Linked DNA regions of Homo sapiens: region 1 is linked to region 2. The links come from fine-mapping of genetic effects on gene expression. Tissue or cell type: tibial artery. Region 2 holds a variant in brackets; the other region holds the start of a gene. All regions are shown on one strand. Distances are from middle to middle.

Region 1 (2,628 bases), 77 kb after region 2:
AGGAACACTTTCAGTTCTTCGATCAAGTCCCATTTTTGTAGTTTTCTCCCCTGCCTGAACACTTTGGACCGCCACCTCTGTCTATTCCTTAGTTCTCGGGTGAAAGTTATCCTTTCCAATAAACCTTCCGAGTTTTTCAAATCTTAATGAGAATCCTTTATTTTGTGCTCCAACAAGCCCCTTCATTTCCCCAACCTCAGCACTCATCAACGAAGGGGAACCCAACTGTCTTGTCTTTGTTACCCCAGCACCTGGCGTGTAACAGCAGCGCAACAAATGTTCTTCAATCAGTTGAAAGTAGATATTAAGTCATGTACACCATCTCCATTTCATAGGAGTCATAAAGCATGATAAGCTCTACTAATGATTAATCTTATAAATGAAGAAACCAGGGTACAGAGAGAAAAATTAAGTTGTCCTGGGTTCTAAAACAGGTAAACGACAACAGAATATAGAACCTGAGACTCCAGAGTCAGAAGCTATTTGTACTCTACCACGCTGCTTCCACTTAAATTCTAGGTCCTATTGACACAGCTGACCCTGTTGGCTCTACTGACACAACTCAGATTGGGCCGACTAAAATGTTCAGAGTATATCTGGGTGCGGTGGCTCATGCCTGTAATCCCAGCACTTTGGGAGGTCGAGGCGGGCGGATCACTTGAGATCAGGAGCTGGAGACTAGCCTGGCCAACATGGTGAAACACTGACTCTACTAAAAATTTTTAAAAATTAGCCGGGTGTGGTGGTGCGTGCCTGTAATCCCAGCTACTTGGGAGGCTCAGGCAGGTGAATCACCTGAACCCGGAAGGCGGAGGTTGCAGTGAGCCAAGATCGCGCCACCGCACGCCAGCCTGGGCGACAGAGACTCCGTCTCAATAATAACAACAATAATAATAAATAAATAAAAGAGTAAGGGGTTCAAAGTTAGGAAATACAGTTTGACCTGCCCCTTCTCTCTAGAAAGGAAACTGGCTCCTGGGACAGCCTTGCATTTCTAATTATTACAGATTGGGCGTCTTCCCAGGAAAAAAGCCCGACCGGCAGACTGTGGAGCCGGACACCCTATTCCAGAAACTAAACTACAAAGGTGGAGGCCAAAATTCGACGCCTACAGACTACAGACTGCAGCCCCTTTATCACATTTCTCTCTTAACTTTTCAGTCCTCCCCGCTTCCCGGTTCGCTCAGGCAGTGCACATCCCAGAGCTCCTTCCCCGCTTGGACCCGAACTGTTCTCACTGAATGATCTCCTCGCTGACATCCAGGCCGAAAGTCTTCCGCAACTGCTGGGTGCACCAGTGCACCAGCGGCTCCCCGGACACCGCCCCAGCCACCGCCATCTTCCCCAGCCGGAACCAGCTGAGCTGCAAAAGCCCCACGTCCTGCACCGGACTAGTTCCCTTCGCAACACCAACCTCTCTCACGCGGGTTCCGCCAGCTTGCACCGCCCCGCAAGGTCGCACCGCCTCCAGTGCAGATCCCGCCCATCTGTGCGCCTCCTGCTTCTTCCTGCTTTGTTGTCTACTTCCTTGTGCCCTCCGGAGTCGAGCTCTGTCAGTGCATGATTCTTGCCAATCGCTAAACGTAGGACTCGAGGAAGGCCATTGGCAATTCTGCTAAGAAGACAGTGCAAGTGCCTATAAAAACGACAGTTTAGGGGGAAAACAAACCAATACCCGGAAAGCTGAGAGGCCAGCTTTTTAATCGTCATGGTTTTATGTAAAATAAAACAGCACGTGGAAGGTATTGTAAGCGCTGTAAGTTTTTGCTCTGGTGGTGGTTTTAATTTTTTAATTAATTAATTAATTTATTTATTTATTTTGAGACGGAGTCTCGCACTGTCGCCCAGGCTTGAGTGCAGTGGCATGATCTCGGCTCACTGCAAGCTCCGCCTCCCGGGTTCATGCCATTCTCCTGCCTCAGCCTCCCAAGTAGCTGGGACTACAGGCACCCGCCACCACGCCCGGCTAATTTTTTTTGTATTTTTAGTAGCGACGCGGTTTCACGTGTTAACCGGGATGGAGTGTTTATTTTTAATACCCCCTGTAGTCGACTACTAGATTCACACCGCTAAAACTTCTATTTTATTTTTTGAGCCATGTATTTTCCAGGAGAGCCAAGACAACTCAGCAAGCTCGAGGGTAAAAAACAGTAAAACAGGAGTTGGAATTTGGCTTTGAGGACTTTCCACATGAGTTCTCAACCAAAAATGACAGTATTTAAGGGCTGTCTGCAATTCCCTACCCCGCTAAGACAATGGGCTGGGGAAAATTTAGCCAAACTTTTCTGGAGATCATAATGTCTTCCCATTCATTTCTGGCTTTTTGTTGCATTTGCAGGTTAAAAGTTCTTCATTTCTACTAGCCTGTTTAGACTAAGTGGTCACATTAAATTGGCAGCTGTTTTACCTTTTTGCTAGTGTTTTCATTGGCATAAATATTATAATTAAAATCATGAGTGTATTGGCCGGGCGCAGTGTCTCATGCCTGTAATCCCAGCGCTTTGGGAGGCCGAGGCGGGAGGATCACCCGAGCGCACACGGAGACACACACACAAACACACACACACACACACACACACACACTGGGCGTGGTGGCTCATGCCTGTAATGCCAGCACTTTGGGAATCA
Region 2 (2,500 bases):
AGCTCACTGCAACCTCCACCTCCCGGGTTCAAGCGATTCTCCTGCCTCAGCCTCCCGAGTAGCTGGAATTACAGGAGTGCACCACCAAGCCTGGCTAATTTTTGTATTATTAGTAGAGATGGAGTTTCACCATGTCAGCCAGGCTGGTCTCAAACTCCTGACCTCAGGTGATCTGCCCGCCTCAGCCTCCCAAAGTGCTGGGATTACAGGCATGAGCCACTGCGCCCGGCCTATATCCGTTTTTAAGATAAATATTTAGTGGTGATGTTCCTTAACATCATTTCTTCTGGTGATGACTTGGTTCTAACAAGTGATGTTAATGTCAATGTCAGGGAAAAGAGTTACAAAGGTGCTGGGAGAAACTAAAAATTGAAAAAAACAACTGGCAGGGCATGATGGCTCACACCTGTAATCCCAGCACTTTGGGAGGCCGAGGTGGGTGGATCACCTGAGGTCAGGAGCTCTACAGCAGCCTGGCCAACATAATGAAACCCCATCTCTACTAAAAATACTAAAATTAGCTGGGCATGGTGGTGGGCGCCTGTAGACCCAGCCATTCAGGAGGCTGACGCAAGCAATTGCTTGAACCTGGGAGGCAGAGGTTGCAGTGAGCCGAGATCGCACCATTACACTCCAGCCTGGGCCACAGGAGCGAAACTCCGTCTCAAAAAAGAAAAACAAACAAACAAACAAATAAACAACCGAAGAGATGCAAACTTCATGTGGGGAAATATATTCATAATATAAAAACATAATATAAAAACACATGCAAAATCACTTGAGTAAGGCATGTCAGGTAGACTTCCACAAAAAGTCAATTACATCATTTGCATAAAACCTATTAGGTATCCACCCAGTAGGCTAAATCTTTTTCACCATACTGAAAGCAAGAAATTTTCTCCTTCCCATTTCCCTTTAATAAACAAGTACTAGAAACACTGAATTACCACTATTTCCCTCCCATGCACAAAGCATAAAGCCAGAACTCCCATAAATACAATAGAGCCGTGTAGGGCCATGTCTAGGGCATGCTACTGAGTGATCTAAAAAACCACAGTTACAGAAGAATCTCTTTCTCTATTCTATTACCATCTTACTAACAAATCAACAAGCATTAAGAAATGTGAAACAAAGTGCAATTTCACACATACAAACTGAATCTAACCCACGGAAGACCAAGTATTTTCTTGTCACTGTGGCATGTGATTCTTCAACCACCTGCTCAGTAATCCCTCTTCAGCTACACAGCTGCTGCCAATTCCACATGCCCAGCTAGGCAGGTGCTTTGGTGAATTACCTGTTCCCTAGCGAAAAGAGTCCTTCACTGACACTTAGTGGACCCAGAACCTGCCAATCAACATCACCTATCTTCATTTT[G/TG]TCTGTCACAGACAACTTTTATAACAGAGGTATCATGAAGGCATATTTAATACATTACGATATTTTGCATTTTGTGGGGTTTTTGTTTGTTTTCTTTAAAGGAAACTGATTTTGAAAAATCAAGTAGAAGAGAGAATTAAGAGACTGAAAAGAAAACTTCCCACACAATATAAGGCTGCCTCATCTCAGGCTAATCCCATCTGCCTGGCAGTATTCCCATCCATGACCAGTTTTCCATGAGGGAAATAACAATTGCTTAGCTACCTTCAGAGTAGGAGAAAAGGGCAGTACAAGTACTAAGGTACCTGGAAAAGAAGTAACTACAAAGAGGAAGCAGAGTGGGAACTTCTGGAGAACACATATCATTGCTATACTTAGCCTCCATGGCTAAGCTCAGGCAATAGTGTTCTGAGTCAAATAAATAAAATAAATAAGGAGTGGCACTTCCACTTGACAGAGCAATCAGTAAACCCCTCAACAAATTATCGTGTTCCAGTCATTTAGTTGCTATATGCTAATTGCAACATAATTGCTACCAGGAGCCAAAATTATGCCTCCATATCCTCACAAAATAAGCACTAATCTGTCCAACTTTCTAGACTTCTATCACAAGGAAATTTTTTTCTACCAAGAAGCTGGGACGGGTAGTTGGGGGGGAATCCAAAGCACTCTTTGAATGATGGTCACAATCAGAAGACTCACATGAGATTCCTTGTGGCAAGGGCCCAACTCTGAAGCCACTAAATCTAATCAGGACAAATTTAATCTGAGGCTTCTGCCTTCACTGTCACCTGACAGCATTCAGAAATAAATGCCAAGAGCCCAAGAGCAAAAAGCTTTGGACTCAGTTTAGCTGAGGCTTCACTCAAATATTCCTAGGACACAGAGTTGGAAATAGTCTAAAGACAGACAACACCTCCAGTAAGGCCTGAAGACAGTTCTGTTATCAAAAAATATATAAAGGTCAGAACAACCTGTTCCCTCCTATCAAAGGCCCAACACCTCAGTGGCAGGCCATCATTTAAAGAAACTCACTGAAATAAAAGGATAAGGGAGGCACCATAGACAGACTAATTGCCTCAGAAAGACCTTTACCAAAACCAAAGGCTAAAGTTCTTATTCA

Direction of the effects. Alleles are on the strand shown, and positions count from the first base shown. SD is a standard deviation of normalised expression in the study named.
For the expression in tibial artery of the gene that starts at base 1,367 in region 1, TG is the low allele of the variant in region 2 and G is the other (large effect, 0.78 SD a copy in GTEx).

Evidence for each region. PIP is the estimated chance that this variant, and not a neighbour inherited with it, causes the effect.
Region 1: it holds the start of TRIP4, and the variant in region 2 is fine-mapped to the expression of TRIP4 in tibial artery (GTEx, PIP above 0.99). The same link has a PIP of 0.9 or more in tibial nerve.

Annotation. Positions count from the first base shown.
Region 1 is chr15:64,386,575-64,389,202 of GRCh38, reverse strand. It overlaps TRIP4 (thyroid hormone receptor interactor 4), which reads right to left and starts at 1,367. Exons shown (of 13, transcript NM_016213.5): 1 at 1,239-1,367. The coding sequence starts at 1,339. It also overlaps a transcript of PCLAF not described here. RefSeq lists enhancers at 651-1,151, 1,081-1,570, 1,152-1,652.
Region 2 is chr15:64,463,565-64,466,064 of GRCh38, reverse strand. All of the region lies in intron 1 of ZNF609 (zinc finger protein 609), which reads right to left. Among named protein-coding and RNA genes, the nearest start is that of ZNF609, 4.2 kb to the right of the region's middle. RefSeq lists an enhancer at 1,188-1,237. The variant G/TG (reference allele first, on the strand shown) is at 1,378.